Homo sapiens: one gene and its partners. The protein of the gene in region 4 purifies or fractionates together with the protein of the main gene of each other region. This does not show direct contact. Each region holds a gene or a part of one and is shown on either strand. Other genes may lie near its edges. The genes, in order: RP2, ENPP1, DDX47, SLC9B2, ALDH18A1, DHX37 and ABCB1.

Region 1 (3,500 bases), on a different chromosome or scaffold from region 4:
ATGTCCTCCCAGGTATTTATCAAAAAGTAGTCAATTATAGATTTGCTAATGTAATCCTCTATGTTTGGTTTTAAATTTATTTATGTCTGCAATTCTTAGATACAGCAACTTCATCAATATATTTAGAAAATGCCTACATGTGATGATTTCTTTTTTTTTTTTTTTTGAGACAGAGTCTCGCTCTGTCGCCCAGGCTGGAGTGCAGTGGCGGGATCTCGGCTCACTGCAAGCTCCGCCTCCCGGGTTCACGCCATTCTCCTGCCTCAGCCTCCCAAGCAGCTGGGACTACAGGCGCCCGCCACTACGCCCGGCTAATTTTTTTTTGTATTTTTAGTAGAGACGGGGTTTCACCGTTTTAGCCGGGATGGTCTCGATCTCCTGACCTCGTGATCCGCCCACCTCGGCCTCCCAAAGTGCTGGGATTACAGGCGTGAGCCACCGCGCCCGGCCTACATGTGATGATTTCTATGTATATCTGAAGTTCAATTTTTGGTGAAGCATTACTGAAGCAAGTAAAAATGAACCCTGGGCGTAAAAATGAACCCTGGGCAACAGAATCGTCCATCTAAAGACTATAATCTTAGAAATAAAATATTTTCAACAAATCAGTATTTTTAAAAATGCAAAGACTTGAAAAGACATTTGATGAGACTTTTTACTTTAGAAACATATACTATAGAAGGTTTTTAATAAATAGATTCTTATTTTGTAATTATTTTAAACAATTAAAGTTTAGTTTGGCAAGAAAAAAATCACAGCTTAGTTCCCAATTATTTATCAAAGGTTCTAAAAATCATGATCTGCTTTAAACACACACACACACACACACACACACACACCCCAAAAATTCCAAGCAACATTAGGGACAAAAGTATTAAAGTATTATTTGACTGTAAGGAAAAGGAGATGAAATGAAAAGTTAGATTGAAATACAGTCAATAAAATCTTGTACCTTGGTCCCATTGAATATCTCGTTTACAATAAGTTGACATACTTCTACAGCACCATCCCCATTAAACTCCAAGGCAATAACAGGACCTATAAGCAAACCCAAGAAACATTTTCTTAACACAAATACAAATATATTCTAAATTTAATCTTTTTATTCTTCCCTGAAGAATCTCCAGCATCTTCTTTGAGGGTGAAAGAGAAGGAAGAGGAAAGCAGACAGATGGGACATATCACCTCAGCTGCTTCTTCCTACGCTAATCATAAAACAAATTAACACAGTCTCATAACAAGTAGCTTCAGTACTATTATAGGACTAGTGTCACATTTTTAAAGTGTTGTAAATAGTCTGGCTTTTCTGGTTCTCATTCTTCTATAAAAACCACAGAAATTCTACTCATTTAGGAGTATAAAAATAGTTGATAAAATAGCAAATAAGATCAAAAGCAATCCAAGTCAACATAAGTAGGTTTTGCCAGGCAGCCAGCCTTGCTTCCAACTCTCCTACTTACCAGCCAAGTTCTAGGCCACCAATAATGAAGCTAAGCCAAATAAGAATTGAGGCCAGGCACCAAAAGTGATGACCATCTGAAAGTATTTTCCTTGAGTGTGTCTTAAAGCTACATTCTAGAAACATAGACAAAGTTTTTATTTTTTAATCCTTTTAATAGAATATCTGTGCCTCCTTTCTCATACATTAATTTGAAAACATTAAAAACCTCCTACAGTGATGGAAAAGTCTTGATCTCCAGGAAATTACAAATGTATTGAAAGAAGACATAAACCCATTAAACAAATACAAACCAACACAGAATAATGAAGTACGAAGTAATGAAATACTAGAGTGAATGAATATGAAACACTAAATTGAATGTAACCGTGTGCTGCAGTACAAGGTACAAGAATGAGAAAGAAAAGGTTACACTACATTGGGCATCAAGATAACTGAAGGCTTGTGATTTTTTTTTTCTTGGAGGCTTGTGATATAATACAGGCAACAAATACAGAAAAGGCAGGATATAGTGGTCCCTAGGTATCTGCAAGGATTGGTTCCATTTGTTGCTCAAATCCCTTATATATTAATAAAATGGTATAGTATTTGCATATAACTTATGCACATCCTCCTGTATACTTTATTAAAAATGTATTAAAATTTCTTTTAGAGATAGAATCTCACGGCTGGGCACAGTGGTTCATGCTTGTAATCGTAGAATTTTGGGAGGCCTAGGCAGGAGGATCACAAGCCCTGGAGTTGAAGACCAGCCTAGGCAACAAAGCAAGACCCCGTCTCTACAAAAAATTAAAAAATTAGCTGGGTGCAGGGTCACAGGCCTGTAGTCCCAGCTACTCGAGGGACTGAGATGGAAAGATCACTTGACCCCAGGAGTTTGAGGTTATAGCAAGCCATGATCAAGCCACTGCACTCTAGCCTGGACAACAGAGCGAGACCATGTCTCAAAAAAAAAATAGATATGGGGTCTCACTATGTTGCTCAGTCTGGTCTCAAACTCTTGGCCTCAAGCAATCCTCTTGCCTTCAGCCCTGGCCAGGAGTTCAAGAACATATTGTAATAAAACATCTAACCTTACAAAAGAAAAGCTTAAAATCTTAAATTTTTATTTAGAAATATCAATGTAAACTCATGATCTTTTCCTTTTTAAAAATACATAGTTTCTAGCTATGTCCACTGAAAAAGCTTAAAAGAAATGACAACCCAGTAATACATAGCACCTAACATGTATTTCTAAATATCATTCCCCACTAAAAATAACTAAGTAATCTTAGAAAAATAGATGATTCCATGTCTGGGGCAAGAAATGGATTAAGGTCAATGTGGAATATTTTCTTCAGCCAAAAAGTAATGAAGCTATCAAAGGCCAGTGGGGTTCTATCAAAAGGAGACAGAAGCCAGCCTGAAGGGGCTCCCAATGGCCAAAGATGAGACATAGTGAAACAGAAGGAATAATGACTCTGATTTATTAAAATTAATATATAAAAAGTCATGAGTTCATAATGATACTTAGAGAGATCCTCCTTACTACCAGATATTTTTAAGGAAAATAAAAAAAGAAGAGAGAAACAAAATTCACTGTATACCAATGGAGGTTGCTAGGGCACCAATTCACTACTCTGAAAATTGATGCTTATTTTTCTCTTTATTTATTCTGCTTTTCTGACATGAAGCATATTTCAAGTTAACCAAACAGCTCTGGCATACGAGGAGTTCTGTTAACATCTGTTAATAAATGCAGAGGTAGTGACAAGATTAAAAAGTAAGTTTGCTAAAAAAAAAAAAAAAGAAAGAAAATACAGAAAACAGTCATTTTGCAACGCCTATTAAAACAATTGGTTCAGGCAACAATCATCAATGGTTTTAGCATCCCACAGAGAAGACTGCAGGAAACTCTACAATAAAAAGAGAAGGTCGTCACCGTGTAAACCCAACCATTAAATCTTAGTATCCCTAAAAGTACAACAATCAAACATTATGTGCCTTCTCAATTAATGCAACAGGAAACAGTACCATCTATGTATTCCTGCCAAAAAAAATT
Region 2 (3,500 bases), on a different chromosome or scaffold from region 4:
GGACTGCAAGCATGAGCCACCACACCCAGCCTTGGCTCTAATCTTAGTGTGAGGCCAAAAATTCATTGTTCAGCTTTGGCCTTTGAAAGGACTCACAGACAAACGTTGAACCCAACTCTCTTTGAGACATCCCTGAACAAGTACATCATGTTGAAATTGTGATCATATGTCATCATTAAGCATAGCAACATCGCAAACACAAACAAGGCATATTATTCCGATTTCCTATTAATATCTGAATATTAACTTTGAAATATTCACAAGTATTCTAGATATAAATTAGACTAAAAACTCCTTATATGCTTATATTTTGATATTCTATACATCAATTTAAGTAACTAAATTTTTATTCCTGTAAAAGTCAAATGCTGCAATAGTTAATGATGATGTAAAATCTATTCATTTGAAAACATAGACAATTATCAAGAACTTCCAAAAAGTTAAATAAGGAAGCCGAATGAAAGTTAATATAAGTGTTAGCAGACTGTATTAGCTGGATAACTTTAGGAAGCGCATCACATACTTTCTCACCAAAACTGTTTGCAAACAATTATACAATTAGAATACATGATAATTCTAATAATTTGTAGAATTTTTGTGTACTAGTATTCTCAAAGTTAAACCTTTAAGAATGTATTTGGTATTAATTCATTTAATTTAGACCATAAGTCCTATTACATATGAATTATGCCTATATGTGCACAAATTCATTAAAATTATCAAATATAGAGTTAACATTATTTACCTTGAAAACTCTGGTACATTGGCACTATATTTGTAGTAAGCAAAGCTTCAGAATATATTCCACTTGAATTTTTATTTAGTTCTACAAAGAGAAAAGAGGACAACTTTTTCATTCTTCACAAATAACATAGGAAATTATAGTTTCTCATGGTTAGGGGAGCATTTTTAAAAATTAGCTGAGTACCATCTTAAACCTGTAAAACTTTCCCAAGTACAGGGTCAAGGGAAAATGTAATGTGTTTGGTCAAGTCCTTTACAAAAATAAAATATTTAAGAAGTCTTTTCAAGATGAGCATGTCAACGAAACATAAACTTTAATAACAAGAGCCCCAAATTAAACATATTCAAACGTTATTGCCCTCATTTCAACTAAAAGGAATTGTGTTGACAATCTTCTTTCCTTACACTTTTTCACAGTGAAAAGAAAAAAGAGAACATCTGGCTCCAGAACAACACCTGCTACCCAGAAAAAACATCACAGGATGTCTGTCTCGAAACACCATACAAGGCTTCTCTGTATGAATTTGAGGCTTGGACCTGGTCTATTTTTATAATGCAATAGCCAAGTTCTGACTTCAGACACATACTCTGGGAACTGAACTGGATGCTGACGGTAGTTGAGCACCTGGAGCTTTCTGATTTTTGCCTTTTAAGGCTGGCCCCAAAATGGCTTCTCATCAACATACAAATTTGCCATTTCAAAAAATAGAATACTTAGCTTCAAAAAAGCCATTCCCTAGAGATTCTGGATCAGTGAAAAAGCAAGCATATGTAAGCCTCTACCTTTACCTACTTCTCTGACAAACGCATTTTCTTTTTAAACAACAAAGTTATTTATCCTAACAAAGTTATCTTCCTAAGAACCTTGATATATTCTTCCAACTTGATATATATATTCCACCTTCACAATATTCTCAAATTGTTTAAAAGAAATGCAGAAAGGAACCATGAAGTGTTCTGCTTACCATATCTGCACTACATCAACTACCCTCCCAACAAAAAGAAAATTTTATAAAATTCAAGTTTTAGATGATTAAAATTTTTCCCTTGGTAGTTCTAGACCAAATCCACAATTTTTCACCAATAAATAAACAAAGCTATATATATATAGCTATATATATATAAAATAGTAATATATATACTTTATATATATTATATATATAATATATATATAAAATAGGTAATATTTATATATATATAATAGGTAATATATATATTACCCTATAATGTATGGTAGGATTTATAAACAAGAAAGAAAACAAAAAGGAGAAAAGGGAAGGTCAGGAGAGGAAAAAACTTACGTGGTGGGGAGAGGAACCCGTAACTCACTTTGGTGTTATTTTTATAAAATGAACATTTATGGACAGGACTAAGAGGAATTCTAAAGTCCTGGTACAGACAGTTGGAGAAGTCTTCCGTAGAGAAACTGTCCTGAAGAACGAAAATGAGAAGAACTCTCAGATATCAGGCACAGAGAAGAAAATTGCTTTATTAATATTTAAAGGTGAACTACATCATAAAATTATGAAGCTCTAGCTGTCAGCTCATGTCCTTCCCTATTTTCCTACTAGTATATTCATCTTTTTTTCTAACTAAAGTGTAAAAATGCTTTACAATATTAAAGATATTAATTGTCATATTTATGCAAATATTTTCAGATTCTGCTATGCTAATATGAAATAATGTTTAGAATGATTTTATCTACACAATTTTAAATATTTATTTATTTATTTATTTATTTATTATTATTATTTTTTTAAGATGGAGTCTCACTCTGTCACCCAGACTAGAGGGCAGCGGCGCAATCTCGGCTCACCGCAACTCTGCCCCCCAGGTTCAAGCGATTCTCCTGCCTCAGCTTCCCGAGTAGCTGGGACTACAGGCATCTGCCACCACGCCTGGCTAATTTTTGTGTTTTTGGTAGAGATGGGGTTTCACCATGTTGGCAAGGCTGGTCTTGAGCTCCTGACCTCAGGTGATCCATCCGCTGCAGCCCCCTCAAAGTGCTGGGATTACAGGTGTGACCCACCACGCCTGGCTAATTTTTTGTATTTTTAGTAGAGACAGGGTTTCACCATGTTAGCCAGGATGGTCTCGAACTCCTGACCTCGTGATCTGCCCTCCTCAGCCCCCCAAAGTGTTGGGATTACAGGCGTGAGCCACCGCGCTGGTCAATTTTAAGCTTTTATATAGTAAAATGTTGATTTTTAGAGATCTGAGTCTATCTTCCATAGTCAACTACACTGCCAAAAGTTGCTGGAGCAAAGGAGGACAGTCACCGAACAGCAATGTAAAAACCTCAAGCATCGCAATGACTGTAAAGTTATGCATTTTAATTACATAAGAAAACTGAAAATGGAATCAAGGAACCCATAATTAAGGTATAAATATTAATAAATAGGATGGGGTGCCTATGAAAAATGGTGTAGACTGATCAATTACAAAGTCAAAAATTTTTTTAAGTGTTTGGTGTTTGAAGACAGTATTGAAAAATTTTAAAAATCAAAGTTCAAGAAATTTTATATAAATATATGTGTGTATTATATATTTGTAACATAGAAATTATATATAAACAGACATATCCCTATCTTTTTATTTGGTTGTCTCACTGATTAGTAAAAATCATTTTATTTTTTAAATCAAACTGCTGCCCTCCACTATGCTCTCTCAAATCCCTTTGTCGTTCCCTTAGGGCATCCTGTACCTTGCCAGTCACTTTCAGTTTCAGCCCAGTTTAAAATTTCAATTCCACGTAA
Region 3 (4,073 bases), on a different chromosome or scaffold from region 4:
CTGCATTTTTCCCCCGTTCCTTTTTTGTATCAGTGGTACACCAATAATATGCCCTAAACATACAGCCTAGAAACTTAGATTTTCCCCACCCCTTCCTTGCCTTCCACTTGCTTAACTGGTTGTAAAATCATAATGATTCTTTTTCCAACATTTTCTTTTTCATTCTACCACCACCCTACCCATTATTGATTGCAAAAATCATTACAAAGACCTACTAATTGGTTTCCCAGACTCAGTCTCTTGTTTCTAATGATCTTTCACAGCTATGAGATTAATCTTCCAAGAGTACAACTCTAAATCCTTCATCTCCAAAAATGCCCCACTGCCTATGAAACGAAGACCAAATTCCTTGACCCAGCACTCAAATCCTTCATAATCCGGCCCCAATCACCTTACTAAACTTTTTCACCACTCTGCTAAGTACTTGCAAATCTCCATACATGCCCATGTTTTCCAGTTGGCTTTTTTTCATGCTGTTCCCTATGCCTAGAAAGTCCTCCCCTCCCATCATATCTGAATGTCTAAATCCTTCTAAAGTCAGTGTTCAAGGTTCAGCTCACATGTCTTCCCAACCTCCCCAGCCAAAAATAAAATGAAATAAATCTTCTCTAATCCATCCTAATTAGAAGTAATCTCTTCTCCCTCAGTGCACTCTGAATGTAACTTTCTTAGGTCCCTGTTCAACTTGTAATAAATTTATAATTATCTCTTTAATAGATTATAGACTCTTGGAGAGGACAGACTGTTAACCTCCAGTGCCTTACATTTACAACAAATAGTAACTATTTATGGAAAGAGCAAATGGAATTTTGTAGAGTAAGTCTAACCCCTTTTCCACATGACAGCTCTTCAAATCATTAAATCTTTCAATTATTATCAATAATAATCACTACATTAATTACTAATGAGTAATAATTATAGCTTACATTAATCACTAATAATATAGTAATACAGTAATAGCTACATTAATACTAACAATAATTAGCCACATTACCCCTCTTATAACAATTGCTATGATTACATTCACTCTCTCTGAGGATCTTAATAGATTTCAGTTAACTAAGACCTCTGGGCCTCTTTTATCACCCACCCTAATCCTGTAAAGTTGGTACTTTAGGAATCTAAGAGCAGGACTTTACTTCTACTCCTATTAAAGTTCATCCTGTTACAGCCAGATGTGGTGGCTCACACCTGTAATCCCAGCACTTTGGGAGGCCAAGGCAGGTAGATCACTTGAGGTCAGGAGTTCGAGACCAGCCTGGCCAACATGCTGAAACCCCATCTCTACTAAAAATACAAAATTAGCCGGACATGGTGATGCGCCTGTAATCCATTACTTGGGAGGCTGAGGCGGGAGAGTTGCTTGAACCTGGAAGGCAGAGGTTGCAGTGAGCCAAGACCGCACCACTGCACTCCAGCCTGGGCGACAGAGCGAAACTCTATCTCAAAAAAAACTCCATCTTAAAAAAAAGATCTCAAAAAGAAAAAAGTTCATCCCATTAGTTTCAGTTCCAGTAGCCATCAATCTGCTTTAACCACTGTTTTACAAATCTGATAAACATGGCTCACAGCAAGAATTCTCAACTCCTCAAGACACACATATGTGTTCCAGGCATCCTTCCCTAAGTGTGCGCCCACTGATGCATAAAGTCTACCAAGATTGTCGTTAATATACTTTAACTTTAACCTAGGGCTTCCTTAAAGTCAGCATCTGTGGCAGAGAACAAACCCTTTCAGCTATTAAGACAGAAAGTAAGCTCAGTAAAATTGGAGAATGACATTTTCAAATACCATTACCCAAACTTTGTACCTTTAGTGACCATATCCTTATTTCACTTGAAGTATGCAAGCAACAGCTTTCAAAAGGGGTATCTAATTGAGATAACTTTATATTAAATCTGTACGAAGTCATACAACCTACCTTGTAAGGCCAAAGGAATAGCTTCAATCTGGATCTTGGTGGGTTTTGTCCATCCCAACTGGTCACAAGCTTCACACAACACATCTGTCACACCCTTGGAATTCAGAAAAATATACCTTAGCCAAGAACAGCACACCCCTACCTCCCTCCTACTTAACTGACTGTCAGACCCATCATGTACAACCATTGTATTTGATTTAAAAGGTATTTACTGTGCATCTCAGAGCCTACTCTTTAACTATACCATGAGACAGTAGCTCAAGACTTAACGAACACTTTCTGCTCACCAAGGCCAAGGCCAGGTGCTTTACATGTATCATCTCATTTAATCGTCACAACAATTCTGCGAGGTAAGTACTTATTACTATCCCCAATTTACAGATGTGGAAAGAGAAACACAGAGAGGTAACAACTTGTCCTCAGTAAGAGACTGTGTCAAAATTCAAATCTGGTTGGTTCATCTGACTCCAAAGCTCCAGTTATAAAGAGACCAATTCCATTCCCCATATGTACAACCTCCTGGATGCACATACAAACGTTGCCACACTAAAGTGGCGAATAGGGCAAATAGGGGGTCTCAGGGCCCAGCAGCCCTCCCACCACCCAAACTCAGAGCACGTCCGAAACCCAGCCCTCTGAAATTCTGGGGAAAACCCAAGCTAGGCCCCAAGATGCTTTTGTACACTATCAGAGCGGGATCTAAGGTACCTGGGGTCTCCCTGAGCCTAGCACCAGAGTACATAAAAGAAGCCAGCGTCATCCATTCTCACCAGGTCTTTAAATGTTTTAGTTTCCTCCTCTTCCACAATCGGCTGGGACGCTTCGGTCGGAGAATCGTGTTCCTCGGGTGCCGCCATCTTGTGTGAGGTCTCCGGAAGTGGGTCTGCGGCGCGCGGGATGCTGGGAAATGTAGTTTTAGTTCTCCCCGGACGACGTGCTCTGCGCGCCCCCTGCGGGCTTGCCGGGGATTGCACCCGTCCGCTAGGCAGGTGGGGCCCAGTGAATATGGGCGCGTAGGCTTGCGGAATAGATCCGAGTGCAGAAGGGGCTGATCACCAGGGACTCCAGTTGACCTTTAGGTCCCTTTTAAAGAGCCTTCCCTACGTGTGTCGCCAGTTATGTTCCCCGCTTTTCTAACCATAGAGTTTGGAACGGATTGATATTACAATACTATTTTTTTATTATGTCATTACTTTATTCAATAATGTTGAGAACCTACCATTTGCTAAGGCTATGCTAGATGGCTGGTGAATAGGACAGCGACCCCTGCCCTCGTGAAGAAAAAGAAGACAGATCATAAATAAGCTATCACAGAGCATTTCAAATTGTGAAAAGTAGCTGGGTGTGCTCACGCCTGTAACCCCAGCACTGTGGGAGGACGAGGCGGGCGGATCACTTGAGCCCAGGAGTTCGAGACCAGCCTGGGCAACGTGGCGAAACCCTGTGTCTGCAAAATGCAAAAATCAGTCAGGCATGCATGGTGGCATGCGCCTGTAATCCCAGCTATTCAGGGGGCTGAGGTTGAGGGATCAGTTGACCCCGGAAGTTGAGGCTGCAGTGAGTGGAGATGGTGCTACTGTACTCCAGCCTGGGCAACAGAGTGAAACCCTGTTCACATAAAAATTACAGAGTAACCTGGGGAGGGTGGGTTGTGGGGATAACTGTGAGATTGGGAAGGCCTCTCTGAGACAGTGATATTTGAGTTAAGACCTCACTGTTGAGCAGGAGAAAACGCTTTAAGATCCCAGGAGATAATCATTCCAGAGTGAGAGAATTCCAAGTACCAAGACTGTGAAGCTACTAAGGCTATTCTGGAAAGCAGCAAATTCAGAGCTGTATGTTGCATGCCCCATGGCCAGCGAGTGCCCTCCTGTGGCCTGTCACTTGGGTCTCACACTGCGCAGGGTGCTCGTTGCAGTTTTATTCCTGAGGATGGGAAGTTGGGGGCAATCTGGTGTCCGTCACTGGGAAAATGCATAGTTAAAATGTGAACATGGTGTCTACAAACATGCCCTTAACAATATGATTAGATCTGAAAAACCTAGTGCTTAGTGAGAAAAGCATAAAATATATCAAGTATATTAAAATATAGGCCCACAGATATCACATTCTGCTAAAACACATCCAACAGAAGATACACTTGAAATATTTT
Region 4 (4,223 bases):
GTTTTATGTTTGTTTTTTACTTGTTGCAACCTCAAATGACCAAATGGTATGATGCACACTGAGATACTCAATAAATGTGCAGTGATTCTTAGCCTTTTTTCCTAGAACTTTAATATTAACATGGAAAATTCTGAAATGGACAACAAAAAGATAACACTTTGTGTATGGGGAAGAATATCATGCAGTTGATGACGGTACATTAAAATTCACACAAAAGGACATTTTGACTAGCATTCAGAAAGAGTCCATTGATTATAAGATTATCTATGAGGTTTTGGACCGGGCACTACACTACCGAATTATGGCTAACTTTGGTTTGTGATCTAGACCAAGTCACCCAATCTATCTTGGATTTTAGTTTTCTGGTTTATGAAATTAAGGAGTTAAGCTAAATGACTTGGGTTTCTTTTCGTGTATCATAATCAAAATGCTGTAACTTCTCTAGTGAATTCATAGAACACTGACTCTTACAAGTATGTCATGAAATACTTTATGCTGTGAGCAGGTATACATGTATAATATATGTATAGCTATGAACAAATAAATTTTAAATAAATGCACAACGAATTCTACAAAATGGGCTCCAACATTAACAAATGATCTGAGTTAGTCTTTCTCACAGCCGACCATAAACTATAAAACATTTTTATAAACACTATCAGCAATAAAAACGAAGTAAAATCTAGCCAAAAAATTCAATGTTCTCCAAAGTCATGTTAATCAAATCAGGTGATATATTAATGAAGTACATATGACTAAAAGGAAAAATATATGTCATTCCTGTGGTAAGAGGAAGCTGAATGTCACTAGAAATTTTTACAAGCTTTAGGAGAGGAAGAGTTCCGTTTAGGAAAATAATCATTTCAGATGATCTGAAGAAGGGTATTGGATGGAACCTATCCAATAGGTTCATCACAAAAGAGGACCTGAGAGACAAGAATGAATGGTTTCTGACTGGTGGAGAAATTTGAGGATAATCTCCCTTGCTTGAAAAGCGGTGATTAAGATTGGCACTTGCTTACAGGAGTGAAAAACAGGTAAGGGGTGCGCGCGTCTTAACACACACAAGAGGAAATACAGAGAAAAGGAAGACACAAACATGAAATGAGAATTAAATGAAATAGAATCACACTGCTGATAGAAGGGTTAAAAATCTAAAATACAACAAGAAGGGCAGGTGTTAAGCGATAAAGGGGGGCAGAACAAGTCTTTTATCCGGCCATTTAATTGGTCACCTTAAGAAAGAATCCTATCTTCCCACCGCAGCTGAGAAGACACTTCTAAGAGGTACAGCTAAAAGGTGGAGGACTGATAGACAACTTAGAGGTTGGTTTCGGGAACGATAAAACAAGTAACGGGCTGCCCGGCCTGCGCCGCGGAGTCCCGAGGAGCCTGCGCTGTGCTCCTCTCGCGGTGTCTCGTCATCTCCGGGAAGACTCGGCGCCTGGGTCCGCGCTCTCTGGGTAAGCTTTCCGGGAAGCTTTCCCGGGAGCTCGCTGGTCCTGGCCCCAGAAGCCTGCGGACCCGCCCAGGGAGGATAAGCAGCTGAAAGACCGCGCGGTGCCGCTCCGAGGCCCCGGGACGTGGGCCCATGGTCGGCCTGGCGCCACCTTTCCGGGGGAAGCCACGCGCACCAGGCATCGCACGCGGCTCTGCACCCGCGCCGCCGGACCTGAAACCCGGCGGAGGGCACACGGGGCTGCCGCTGCGGGCCCCGGACCAACCCATGCTTACTCCGGAGCCTGTACCGGCGCCGACGGGTCGGACCTCCCTGCGCGGTGTCGCCCAGCGGGTTCGTGCGAAAGGCGGGGCCGACTACACGCGGTGCCGCGCCCTGAGACCGTTTATCTGCAGTCAACGCAGCCTCCCGGCTCAGCCTGGGAAGATGCGCGAATCGGGAACCCCAGAGCGCGGTGGCTAGACCGGGCTCCGCCGCCTCCCCCACAGCCCCTTTCCTAATCGTTCAGACGGAGCCTGGTCGACTTCGCCGGAGACTGCCAGGTGAGAGGCCCCAGAGACACTAAGGGTAAAAATAAACCCAGCGCCAGCGGCGGGTACCCTGTAGGCCTGCTGGACCGGAGACGCGAGCGAGGGGCCCAGCCTTTTCTGTTTGTACACCCGGTGACGGGCGCGTGTCTGTTTACTGTTGTAAGGTGTTGGCGTGGGTTTTCTTGCTTGCTTTTATTTTAGTTCTCAGATTAACCAGAGGGGGTGTTGCCTTTGTGGACTGGGTTAGCATCCTCGAGGTGCTAAGAATCATCGTATGCTATTGACTGAAGAATATAACCTTAAGACAGCAGTAGCTGCTGTAAGAGATAAAGTAAAACATCTCAGTAACTAAACATAGTTCAGGCTTATTTCTCGTTCATGTCAAGTCCATTCACGTGTTCAGCTGTTGGCCTTCTACTCAATTATTCAGGAACCCAAACTCCTTTTATATTATGGCTTTGCTATCCCCTAAGACCTTGGAGTCCTTAGTTTCCAGGCAACGGACAGAAAAAGAAAAGCTACTAGAGGATTGCATGAGGATTGTTTCTTATGGGTGAGGACTGGAAATCACATACTATTTATGTCCACATGCCATTGACCAGACTTCAGTCACATGCCACACTGACCTGCAAGGGAGACTGGAAATGTACTATGGACCCAGGCAGAAGAGTAAACGATTTTGGTAAACACATATCAGTCTCTGACCATCCCTTAAAGGGCAGACTGCATCTTAGTCATCTTTGTTACTCTTGTGCCTATCACACCAGAGAAACTTGTTAAGGCTTTGTGAGGCCGAGGTGGGCATATCACCTGAGGTCAGGAGTTCGAGACCAGCCTAGCCAACATGGTAAAACCCCATCTCTACTAAAAATATAAAAATTAGCTGGGCATGGTGGTGCACGCCCGTAATTCCAGCTATTCCGGAGGCTGAGGCTGAAGAATCGCTTGAACCCAGGAGGCACAGGTTGCAGTGAGCCAAGATTGTGCCACTGCACTCCAGCCTAGGTGACAGAGCAAGACTCCATCTCAGAAAAGAAAAAAAAGGAAATGAAACTTGTTAAGGGATGGGGTTGTTATGTGTCTAAAGTTGAAACTTAACCATATTTCATTGTGATTGCTTAGGAATCATTTATCATCCTTTATCATCCTGTAACTAGATTACAAGATCTGAATATAGGAACTATTTAAGACCGTTCACTTCTGAATCCTCAGCTCAAGGACTGGGACGTAACAAGAGCTTAATAGCTCTTGTTTGTTGAATGAATGAATGAATCATCAGAGAGGAAAACGAGGGAGACAGTTTGTCAATGTTGGAGTTAGGAAATACTGAGAAGGTGACATTTGAGTTAGATTTTGAATTTCTTCAAGTAGAAAAAGCAGAAATGAAACTCCAGGCAGCAATAGTAGTGATATTTTATTGTTGTTGTTTTGTTTCATGAGTGGAAATTTGGAAAACAACCAAACGTTTATAAGTCCAACTTTTCTTCATTCAGTATTCAAATATTACAATTTAACTTCAGGGTAGAGGAGGGGAAATACATAATCTTACAATCCAAATAATTTCTGTTGACTAAAAGAATGGCAGTGAAAACCTTGGCACTAATTTTTAACTTTATAAAATGTTATTTTCTGGACATTTTTGAGAAATTTCAATACAAAGGCAGTGTTCTGATCATTCATTGTCTATGATGATTTTGCACTGTAACAAGAAGCTAGAAAGATAGAAACTAAAGTTTGTAAGACAGAGGTTCCTCATCACTGCTGTTCATCAGGGCTTCTCAGGGATGGTTCTGCAACAAAATCACCTGTTATATTGGTTAGGATGCTTTTGGCTGCAAGTAACAGGATATTCAGCCAAAACTCCCTTCAAAAATACAGATGTACTTTGCTCATACATGAAGATGTTTGAAGGTAGGTGGGTCCAGGGTTTGTTCAGTAGCTCAGTAATATCAGGGCTCTATGTTGCTTTCTGTGTTCAGCTAATCTTGACTTTTCTTCATGGGTGAATGATGGCTGCTAGAATTGTCCCAAGAAACCCATCCACAATCCCAACTTCCCTTGCCTCTTTACCTGGTCATTTAAAGACAAAAAGAGGAGAGGATTTTCCTCCTCTCTCTCTGTCTTTATTAAGAAGGAAAATCTTATGTAATATGCCCCAATAGTCTTGCCTACAAATTCCAATGGCAAGAAATGAATCATGCTCACTCCTTAGCCAATAAGTGGCAAAGAGGAAT
Region 5 (3,500 bases), on a different chromosome or scaffold from region 4:
CCCATCTTCTAAGGAACTTTTAGGCTCTAAGTTCCAAAGAAAATCTGTCCCCTCTTAGTAGGTATGAGGGCATACTGAAGTGTATGTGTGTACAGATGTGGCATGGTGGGGGATGGGAGGGGTTGTCCATGTTCTTCTTAAGGGCCACGGATTATACTCTTACCACTCTGACAGAGGAGAACCCTTTACTTCTTCAGCATCAGAATCCTTATGCCCAGTAACCAATGAGGCTGTGTTCCAGGCCTCAACAAGAAGGGACCCAGACATGACTACTCTTTTTCTCTCTGGCCTTCCATTGCCTTCTCTGTTTATCTCCACAAGCGTTCTCATTTTGCCTTTCTTTTCTTTTTTTTTCCCTCTGCTATTCTGCTTATCATGGTCAGTGAAAGAGCTCCACGTTCCAGAAAAATCCAAATCCCCAAATTCAAAAACCTAGGGAAACAATTAGAAAGTGCCTCCTTCTGTGAATGAGTCTAATGAGGATAAGTATCAATAAAAATACTGAAGTGAACACTTACTATATACCAGGAGTTGTGCTAAGTATTCATACACCTTCTACAGGAGTAAAAAGGACAAGTGTTGGCTCTGGAGCCAGACTGCCTGAGTGAAATTTCAACCCCTTCACTTACTTGCTGTCTCCTTAACTATCTCATAAGGTTGGTAGGGTGGATAAAACAAGTTCATGCATGAACAGAGATTGGCACAAAATACTCAATGAATATTAACTGGTACTGTAAAAAAAGTGTTACTTACTGTGACATGACATATATATCCATGGTCCCTGGCTTATAACTCTAATAATCCTTTTTACAGTCTTTTGTTATAATGTTGGTGTAAGGAAACAGAATCTCTCTGGTATTCTCCTGAACTCCTTTCACCTACTCAAGGCAGGACTCTAATTTGATTGTGGGTTGTAAGACCCTCAGTCCAGAGAGGGTCCTGCCCCATACCTTGGAGGAAGAAATATTGCACAGGAAGACCAAGACAAAATCTGAACAGACAGGCCTTGCTGGGTTACCCCACTCAGTCTATTAGTATCAGGTCACATTCTTTTTGTTCAATCACATTTCGACACAGTTGCCCATGCTTCAATCATGCCTATCCAATAAGTCTCCATAAGAGGTCCAAGGGGACAAGGTTCGGAGAGCTTCCAGATGGCTGAACATGTGGAGGTTCCTGGAGGGTGGCGTGCCCCGGAAGGGCATGGAAGATCTGTGCCTCTTACCACACACCTCACCCTACATATCTCTTCATCTGTTTCCTTTGTAATAAATTGGTAAATCTAAGTGTTTCCCTGAGTTCTCTGCATCACTCTAGCAAATCAATCAAGCCCAAAGAGGGTACTGTGGGAACCCCAACTTGAAGCCAGTCAGTCAGAAGTTCCAGAAGCCTGGACTCAGGACTACTAGGAAGATGGGGATGATCTTGAGGGACTGAGCCCTCAACCTGTGGGCTGTCCTCAGGGAGACAGTGTCAGAATTGAATTGGAGGATACCCAACTGATGTCCACTGCAACCCCGTACATTTGGTCACAGAAGTCTTCTGTGTTGATTGTTGTTATGGAGTGAGAGCAGAGGAAAAATAGTTTGAGCTTTTCCATATTCTACCTTCATCATCATCATCATCATCATCATCATCATCATCATCATCATCTTACTGAATTCTCATGAATTAAGCCTCATAAGTTAGGTATTATTATGAGTTCATTATTATTATTATCCCCATTTTATAAATAAGGAAACTGATGCTCAGAGTAACTGAGTAATTTACCAGCATTGCCAGATTACAAAAATGGCCACAATCCTTTTGCAGCTTCTCCATTAACAGGTGAGTCAATCTTCCAAACTTCTTAAATTTGAGCTGGCCCCGTAACTTGCTTTGACAAATGTGGCAGAAGGAACAGTGCATAAATTCTGAGTTTACATCTCAAGAGGACTTGTAGCTACCATGCTTCCTGTTCTGGGGACCCTGCAAGCATCATGCAAAGCAGCAATGAACAGCCTGCTGGAGAATGAGAAGCCACAGGGAATGTACATGATGTATCATCCCAGCAGAGGCCCCTTCATCCCCAACAATCAGCCCTAAGTCAATCTGAGACCTGACACAGACACAGAACCACTGTGCAGCTGAGCCCAGTCCAAAATACCATCCCACAGAATTGTGACCTAAACAGACAGTTGTTTTAAGCTACGAAGTTACTTCATAAGCAGAAGGGCTAGTTTTAAAAACCCAGGAACTGGTTCCAAAACCTGAACTTTCAGCCCTTATACTCTACATTAATAGGAAAGAGATTTTTCTGTCTAATGACAAGCTTGATTAGTTGATTGGCAAGTCATCTTGCAATGAAGCTTGGAAATGGACTACTGATAAGATTTAGGTGATATCAAGGAGCTAGCCAACTCAAAACATCACAAACAGCCTTTCAACAAATGATGCTGGAACAACTAGTATTAAAAGTTGAAAGATGAACATTGACCTAAACCTCACACCTTATACAAAAATTAACTCAAAATAGATCACGAAGTTGGGTGCAGTGGCTCACACCTGTAATTCCTGCAGGTTGGGAGGTCAAGGTGGGAGGATCTTTTGAGCCCAGAAGTTCGAGACCAGCCAGAGCAACATAGACTCCATTTTTACAGATTTTTTTTTTTTTTTTTTTTTGAAACGGAGTCTCACTCTGTCACCCAGGCTAGAGTGCAGTGGCGCTATCTTGGCTCACTGCAAGCTCCTCCTCCCGGGTTAATGCCATTCTCCTGCCTCAGCCTCCCAAGCAGCTGGGACTACAGGCACCTGCCACCACACCCGGCTAATTTTTTGTGTTTTTTAGTACAGACGGGGTTTCACTGTGTTAGTCAGGATGGTCTCGATATCCTGACCTCGTGATCTGCCCACCTCGGCCTCCCAAAGTGCTGGGATTACAGGCGTGAGCCATCAGGCCCAACCAAAAAACTTTTTAAAAAATTAAATGTGCCAAGACTGGGCAACATGGCAAAACCCTGTCTCAACAAAAAATATAAAAATTAGCTGGATATGGTGGTGCACGCCTATAGTCCCAGCTACTTGGGAGGCTGAGGCAGGAGAATCGCTTGAGCCTGGGACGTTGAGGCTGCAGTGAGTAATGATTGCACCACTGCTCTCTAGCCTGGGTGACAGAGTGACACCCTGTCTCAAAAAATAAAAAAAAAAAACAAAGAAAAAAATTAGCCAGCTGTGGTGGTGCAACCCATAGTCCTAGCTACCTGGGAGGCTGACATAGGAGGATCACTTGAGCCCTGGAGGTTGAGGCTGCAGTGAGCCTTGATCGTGCCACTATGCTCTAGCCCTGGGTAACAACAGAGCAAGATCTTGTCTCAAGAAAACAAAAAAAAAATGGATCATGGATTTAAGTATAAAATATAAAACTATCGAACTTTCGGGAAAAAAACATACGAGAAAATCTTCAGAATACGGGGTTATACAAAGAGTTCTTAGACTTGACCCCAAAAGTACAATCCATAAAA
Region 6 (3,500 bases), on a different chromosome or scaffold from region 4:
CTGAGTTTGGGAGTTGCCTGAGCTTGGGAGTTCAAGACCAGCCTGGGCAACATGGCAAAACCCCGTCTCTACAAAAAAAATACAAAGTTAGCCAAGCGTAGTAGCGTGTGCCCACAGTCCCAGGCTCTTTGGGAGGGTGAGGCAGGAGGGTCACTTGAGCCTCGGAGGCGGAGGTTGCAGTCAGCTGAGATCAAACCTCTGCACTTTAGCCTGGGTGACAGAGTGAGACCCTGTTTCAAACGAACAAACAACAAAAACAGCAGTGAAGATAACAGCAAAAAGCTAAAACAACCAACTATCCAGCAACAGAATACTCATCCTGCGCTATATTCACACCGTGAATACTCGATAGCAGTGGGGAAAAAGTAAATGAGCCTCAGCTGCCTGCATCAACATGGATGTATCCCAAGATATAATGCTGAGTAACAAAAAAGCAAACTGGAATAACGTAAAGGACATGATGCCACTTTTAAATACAGGCAAACCTACGGTATGTATTGCTTAGGAATATGGACAGGATACGAATAGGGAAAAATTCACAAAGAAAAGCAGGAACTGAAGTCCCAAGGGATGGCAGGGACACGGGATGGAGGAGGCCAAGCCCCTGAGTGACCGCGCGGAGCAGAACCCCACACCCTCCTTGCCACCAGATGGCACTGGGTGATGACATCACCTAGAAGCAAACGTTTGTGGTGTGAAGCCACTGGCACTTTGGGGTCATTTGCTAGAGCGGTCAGCTTACCCTGATGAAGACTTATAAAAGCAGAAAAATGTACTTAGAAGCAGGATCCCAATTCCATTCAACGGCCAACATTACTCCTCTAGGGATCCAGAGTTCCTACGTGGGCTGTGGGCTTTCCATGCCCCAAATCCTTTCATTGTCATCACAACCCAGTGAGACACTCATTGTACCAGGAAGGAAACAGGCACAGAGAGGGGGAGCCCCTTCAGTAGCCGGAATATTCCCATTTTACAGATGCGCGGGAAGTGAGCTGGAGAGCAGGGGAATCAGCACTTGATTTCGGGTCAACTGATTCACAGCCCAAACTCTTGTCTGGATCGGGGCAGCCCAGGCCAGGCCCGCTGGTCAGAGGGCAGTGGCGATGAAGCTACTGCCGCCGACCTCCAGGGCCCCGAGCCTGCCAGGCGTGCCGCCAGACACCCGCCCTGCACTGTGATCCTCCTCGCGCACCAATCCCTGCCACAGCCTCAAGGGAGGCGCAGTCACTCTCCCCTTTCCCAGATGGGGACATGGAGGCACAGAGAAGGGATGCCCTTGCCCCACTTCACCAGGACGCCCTCTGTGCGCCCCTTGCCCGCTAACCTAGATTCTTAATCACAAACACGGGGTGGCGAACCTGCATTTCCGGGGAGCGGTTCACGGGGATGAAGACGGCGGGCTTAGCCAGGGCCCTGGGCAGTGGTGGGGCTGCAGCTGGAGGAGGAGGAACAGTCATCCCAGCCGGCACGGGCTGACTGCTGGGTGCTGGAGCTGGCGGCAGAGGTGCCACGGTGGTCCCCACACCAGCCTCAGCCGGCTCAGCAGCTGGGTCCTCGTCCAGCTCCGACTCCTCCTCCAGCTCCGATTCCGACTCCTCCTCCTCCTCCTCCTCCTCCTCAGCTGAGGGCCAGCGGCGACGCTTCCGGTGGGCACCGCTGAGGCTACTGATCTTCTCCTGGCCCGGGGCTACCACCTCGTCAGCCTTCCTGTTGAGATAGCAGAGACTTCAGGCACAGAGGCCCCACCTCAATCCCAGAGGTCAGGACTCCAAGGCCATACCCCTTTCTGCCTCAGGGACTTTGCACCTGCTGTTCCACTCCCTGAAATGCCCTTCCTGCAGATACCTCCTCTCACTCCACTTAAGCCTCTGCTTAAGCACTAGCTGTCAGGGAGACTCCCTGACCACACACAGACCCCACATCTCACCCTTCTCCCTCCACCTCGCTCTTCCCTGCTTCATTTTCTGCTCAGTGCTTCCCAGCGTGGGACACAGATGCACTCGCCTGATGACTTCCCACGATTACATCTCCCGCCATGACACTGGGAAGCTCCTTAAGAGAAAGGACTTTATTTCTGTGCACTGCTCTATCCCCAGGGCCTAGCAGAGAGCCTGGGACAGTCTCTGCACTCGATAAACAGTCACTAACTGACAGTGCTCACAGGCACCAGTCAGGCCTCATGTAAATGAGCAGCACAGGCTGAGGAGACCACAGAGTGGGGTGGGACTGGGTGGGAGGGGCACACAGGCCATTTAAGGGTCAGCAGCTTGGTGGGGACACTGCTGGTGTGGCCGGATCGTCCAACTAGTCGAGACTAGGTGGGAACATGAATTCACCTTGTCGCCCAGGACGGAGTGCAGTGGTGCAATCACGGCTCACTGTAGCTTCAACCTCCCAGGCTCAGGTGATCCTCCCACCTCAGCCGCCAGAGTAGCTGAGACCACAGGCATGAGCCACCATGCCCAGCTAATTTTTGTATTTTTAGTGGAGACAGGGTTTCACCATGTTGGCCATGCTAGTCTCAAACTCCTGACCTCAGGTGATCCACCCGCCTCGGCCTCCCAAAGTGCTAGGATTACAGGTATGAGCCACGGCACCCTTCTGGCTTGGTTGTTCTAAGCCACCGCTGTTTGCAGTAATTTGTTATGGCAGCGCCAGGAAGCTAACATATTGGCAAACAGCACTCATGCCTTAAAAAACGACACAAACCAGTCGGGCGCGGTGGCTCACGCCTGTAATCCCAGCACTTTGGGAGGCCGAGGCGGGCAGATCACCCAAGGTTGGGAGTTCGAGACCAGCCTGACCAACATGGAGAAACCCCGTCTCTACTAAAAATACAAAATTAGCCGGGCTTGGTGGTGCATGCCTGTAATCCCAGCTACTTGGGAGGCTGAGGCAGGAGAATCGCTTGAACCTGGGAGGTGGAGGTTGCGGTAAGCTGAGATCACGCCATTGCACTCCAGCCTGGGTGACAAAGCAAGACTCTGTCTCAAAAAAAAAAAACAAAAAAAAACACGACACAAACCAAACCAAACCCGCTGATGGGCCAAATCCAGCCCTTGACCACCTAATGGCAATTTCTGGCCTAATCAGCTGCACAAAAGCTGGAAGAGCTGTAACAAGGGACTCTACACCACAGGAAAACACCGACATCACTGGAGCGAGAAACTTTGCTGTCCTGTGTGTCGCAGAAGGTTCAGCAGCATCTGTGGCCTTTACCCACTAGAGGCATTTAGGATGACAATGAATTTTCAGCCACTCAGGCCACCATAAAGGTATTTTCTCAAATGTTCCACCCCCAGAGGACCCCATAACCTGTGCGCCCTCCCTAGGGGGCCCTGGAGGGAGGGCAGGGTTAGCAAAGGACTGGCCAACTCACTCTTTGGTGTGATACATGCGGTTCCCAGTGCCTAGCTTGGAAGTGGTATAAAAGAGTCTCATCTCAGCTTCGGAAGCCTGGACTTCACTCAGCTTCTGTAGCATCTCTGCTCGCTGGGAAA
Region 7 (3,500 bases), on a different chromosome or scaffold from region 4:
TGTTACAGATCGCTACTGAAGCAATAGAAAACTTCCGAACCGTTGTTTCTTTGACTCAGGAGCAGAAGTTTGAACATATGTATGCTCAGAGTTTGCAGGTACCATACAGGTAATAACCGCTGAAGAGTGGGAGGAGAGTGTGAATAATTTTTCAATCATCATATTTGTTTTCAGAGGGATTACTTTGGCTAGAAGGTAGGGAGCAAGTGGAGAAAGTGCTCGAAGGTAAACCATTGAGAAACAGTTGTAATTATGCAGGAGAGAAAGTACAAGACCCTGAACTAAGGCAGGGACATCTCTGAGGTAGAACCTGTAAGAATGGGTCACTGATGAGAAGGGAGGGAGACATGATGCTGAGAATGACTATCTGATGTCCAGGTAGGATATGACCCTATAATTTGCTCTAGTTGAAAATGAGTTATTTATGGAACCTGAAATTTGAGGTACCTGTGGGACACAGAGAGGATGGTGCTTCCTGGGTTTACCTGTCTTTCTGCTTTTTACCCCTTCTCCAGTGCAGACCTTCTTCCTTTAATACAGTCATCCCAGTGAGGGCTCTAATAAGTGGTGTGAACATAAGCAAGCCCAACCTTTCTGAGTCTGTTTCTTATAATAAAAGGAAAGCTGGACTTTATTGATGGATTTTTAAGCTTTTATTTAAAAAAAATGATGGTAGAGCCTTTTTGTCTAAAAAAAAATTATTTGAAATCTTCATATGTGATGAAGGTAAAAGCAGAGTTGATCTGGTAGCAGGAGGGGTTGGAAGCCCAGGGCTGCCCACTTGCTAACCTGCCCCCACCCACACCTCCATATCACTGAGCTGGATCCATATCATGATTCTAGAATGTCAACCCCTTTTTAAAGCCTTCTCTGAGACCCCCGAAGAATTTAGTGCTTCTCCTTTCTTCCTATAACAGATTATTCATAAGGCACCTCTAATGCATAAATAGTAATTCAACTCAAGTCAGGTCTCCTAAGTCAAGAACATGCCTGTTTCCTCTATGTCAACCCATCATGGCCCCTGCACCTTGTAGGTGTTGGGTAACTGTGTGCAGAATGAATATTTACGTAGAGTACTTCCATACTGTGTGTCCAAAAGTGGGGAGAAAGGGAGATAACTTTTACTTATTGATCCCTAACCGGCTCTTTACAGTCATTGGATTATTTTCTCTTTACATCAACACTTTGAGGTGTAGTTAATTCTACATTAAAGATAAAGACACTGAGTCTCAGAGGTTAGGCAGTTTCCCAAATTTGCACAACTGTTAAGTGTAAAGTGAGGACCAAACTTAGTTCTTTGGAAACGAAACCCATTTTTGTTGGTCATGCCTCTGTGCCCTACTGCCAACCTATCAAAAGTTACATTTTAAGGACTGAGAAATGAAAGTGGAATGAGTTTTCAAATGTCTTCTTTTCAGAAACTCTTTGAGGAAAGCACACATCTTTGGAATTACATTTTCCTTCACCCAGGCAATGATGTATTTTTCCTATGCTGGATGTTTCCGGTTTGGAGCCTACTTGGTGGCACATAAACTCATGAGCTTTGAGGATGTTCTGTTGTAAGTATTGGGCTATTATTTAGTTAAGCTCTAAAAATAAAGCTGGGATGAACATGCTTCATGTCTAGATAGGAAACCCTACTGTGAAGCCTCATGAAGAGATTCTGGTGATTCCTAAATCGGCATTTCTGCCTCTGAGTCTTCATGTGCCACCATTGAAGCACCCCCTTTCATTTGGAGGAGCAGTAACTTCTTTCCTCATTGCTGGCTCACACATAGTTGACCTTTTCAAATCTGTGACTGAGTGGAGTGATTCCATTCGGAGATTTTGAGAAGGCCTTGGCATTTGGGAAGAAGCCTAGCCCTGAGCAAGGAGTCTGACTGGCTCCTTTTAAAGGACTTTCTTACAGAGCAAGTAAAATACAGATGTGTTGTACTAAGTTCTGCAAGCCTTTGGCAATTCCAGGATATGTTTACTTTCCCTTGATAAGAGAGGAATTGGAAGGTAAGAGCCAAATGAATTCAGAAATGACAAAGGAAAAGTTATATTGGGATTTTTCTGCTACATTGTTCTGAATGTAGATAATTGTACCTCGGTCAGAGGAAGATAAGCCTGAAGCAATTATACTACAAAAGTACCCAAATATGCAATTTGGTGGTCAAAAGTATGTGTAATCTTTCTGAGCTTCTAGATTTGGAGGTGGGTAAGATTCTGCCTCTTGATAGCATAACATAATTAGTAGCGATATAATTTTATATTTAAACCAGAATCATATAAGCCTGGCAGTATAATGTGTTAGTATAGTATTTCTGTCCTTTTTAAACATTGAGTTGTTCATGCATTACAGTTTGCTCAGGATGACCCCCAAAAAGACATCTAAATTTCCATTAAAGATGTACATTGGACAAATGATATGCAGGTGCTATTTGTGATTATGGCCTAGAGATCAAAACCAAGTATCACTGGCATTGGGGCTTTGATTAGATAATTATTTGATATATTGCTTTACTCCAAAAAATTGAATTGATGAAAGTTGCTGACATTGGGGCATTTAGGTTTGCAAAATCAACCTTCCAAGTTAAGGAAAAGGAAGACCTGTCTGAAGAACAGTGCATTAGAAAAAGGTCCCATAGGTTTAAATGATCACAAGTCCAAGATTAACTATCGGTATTTTATTTAGTGCTAGTTAAACAAACAAACAAACAAAAACTAATGACACAATATGCTACACAAACATAGGCATAGAGTCCAGAGGAAAGAAAGCGATGAATTCCCTGTATTCTGGGCGGGTTCCCAAGTATTATGTCTGTTCCAGGCTTGTGTTTAAAAAAAGCATATTAATAAATGTGTCTAGAGAAGGGCAGTGAAAGGAGTTATCAAAGAAGCAAAGGAGTTTTTAGCAATATTTCAAGACTTGTAGGCCTGTCTTATGTAAAAGGAAGTAAATTTTTTCTTCAGTTTGAAAAAGAACTGTTTAACAATAGACAATCAAACATGCTACTTCCTAAAACAGAGGATGGAAGCCAATTTAGGGGAGGTGTCCAGGCACGAACATGGAGAGCTGGACTTGATACCTGTAAGGTCCTTCCCAACTTTAAGTTGCTGTGATTCCCATGTCATAGATAAGAACGTCAATGCATCTTAAGAGCAACATGATATCTGGCTCTGTAAGAAACTTTCTTTTGGTTGCACAATTCATAGGTTTTTAAGAATCTGATGTAATTCCAACATCACTGACTGTATCCGTTGTTGATTACCACAATAATGCTGTGTAACAACCAGCCACTAAACCTCAGAGACATACATATTTTTGCCCACAAACCTATGGGTTAGCTGTGAAGTTCTACTGATCTGGATTAGGCATAGTGGATCTCGGCTGGACTTACTCATGTGTCTGTAGTGGATTGTGTCTGTAGCTGGTTGGTTGGGATTCAGACAGCTCTCCTCCATGTGTGCCTCATCCTCCAGCAGGCTATCCTGGGTTTGAGACAGTGGCAGAA

What was found.
Region 1: the proteins of SLC9B2 (region 4) and RP2 purify together in Homo sapiens (affinity purification with mass spectrometry; one large-scale study listed by BioGRID and IntAct). This does not show direct contact.
Region 2: the proteins of SLC9B2 (region 4) and ENPP1 purify together in Homo sapiens (affinity purification with mass spectrometry; one large-scale study listed by BioGRID and IntAct). This does not show direct contact.
Region 3: the proteins of SLC9B2 (region 4) and DDX47 purify together in Homo sapiens (affinity purification with mass spectrometry; one large-scale study listed by BioGRID and IntAct). This does not show direct contact.
Region 5: the proteins of SLC9B2 (region 4) and ALDH18A1 purify together in Homo sapiens (affinity purification with mass spectrometry; one large-scale study listed by BioGRID and IntAct). This does not show direct contact.
Region 6: the proteins of SLC9B2 (region 4) and DHX37 purify together in Homo sapiens (affinity purification with mass spectrometry; one large-scale study listed by BioGRID and IntAct). This does not show direct contact.
Region 7: the proteins of SLC9B2 (region 4) and ABCB1 purify together in Homo sapiens (affinity purification with mass spectrometry; one large-scale study listed by BioGRID and IntAct). This does not show direct contact.

The regions. Positions count from the first base shown.
Region 1 is NC_000023.11:46,875,043-46,878,542, reverse strand, and holds part of RP2 (protein XRP2), read right to left. Parts: intron 1,039-3,500; coding exon 953-1,038; intron 1-952. UniProt on the Homo sapiens protein: Acts as a GTPase-activating protein (GAP) involved in trafficking between the Golgi and the ciliary membrane.
Region 2 is NC_000006.12:131,881,020-131,884,519, reverse strand, and holds part of ENPP1 (ectonucleotide pyrophosphatase/phosphodiesterase family member 1), read right to left. Parts: intron 2,176-3,500; coding exon 2,046-2,175; intron 827-2,045; coding exon 746-826; intron 1-745. UniProt on the Homo sapiens protein: Nucleotide pyrophosphatase that generates diphosphate (PPi) and functions in bone mineralization and soft tissue calcification by regulating pyrophosphate levels.
Region 3 is NC_000012.12:12,812,073-12,816,145, reverse strand, and holds the start of DDX47 (probable ATP-dependent RNA helicase DDX47), read right to left. Parts: upstream 2,801-4,073; 5' UTR 2,779-2,800; coding exon 2,692-2,778; intron 2,016-2,691; coding exon 1,922-2,015; intron 1-1,921. UniProt on the Homo sapiens protein: Required for efficient ribosome biogenesis. May have a role in mRNA splicing. Involved in apoptosis.
Region 4 is NC_000004.12:103,073,962-103,078,184, reverse strand, and holds the start of SLC9B2 (sodium/hydrogen exchanger 9B2), read left to right. Parts: upstream 1-1,423; 5' UTR 1,424-2,001; intron 2,002-4,223. UniProt on the Homo sapiens protein: Electroneutral Na(+) Li(+)/H(+) antiporter that extrudes Na(+) or Li(+) in exchange for external protons across the membrane. Uses the proton gradient/membrane potential to extrude sodium.
Region 5 is NC_000010.11:95,646,712-95,650,211, forward strand, and holds part of ALDH18A1 (delta-1-pyrroline-5-carboxylate synthase), read right to left. Parts: intron 1-3,500. UniProt on the Homo sapiens protein: Bifunctional enzyme that converts glutamate to glutamate 5-semialdehyde, an intermediate in the biosynthesis of proline, ornithine and arginine.
Region 6 is NC_000012.12:124,979,132-124,982,631, forward strand, and holds part of DHX37 (probable ATP-dependent RNA helicase DHX37), read right to left. Parts: intron 3,493-3,500; coding exon 3,380-3,492; intron 1,708-3,379; coding exon 1,359-1,707; intron 1-1,358. UniProt on the Homo sapiens protein: ATP-binding RNA helicase that plays a role in maturation of the small ribosomal subunit in ribosome biogenesis. Required for the release of the U3 snoRNP from pre-ribosomal particles.
Region 7 is NC_000007.14:87,517,385-87,520,884, reverse strand, and holds part of ABCB1 (ATP-dependent translocase ABCB1), read left to right. Parts: intron 1-8; coding exon 9-109; intron 110-1,418; coding exon 1,419-1,559; intron 1,560-3,500. UniProt on the Homo sapiens protein: Translocates drugs and phospholipids across the membrane. Catalyzes the flop of phospholipids from the cytoplasmic to the exoplasmic leaflet of the apical membrane.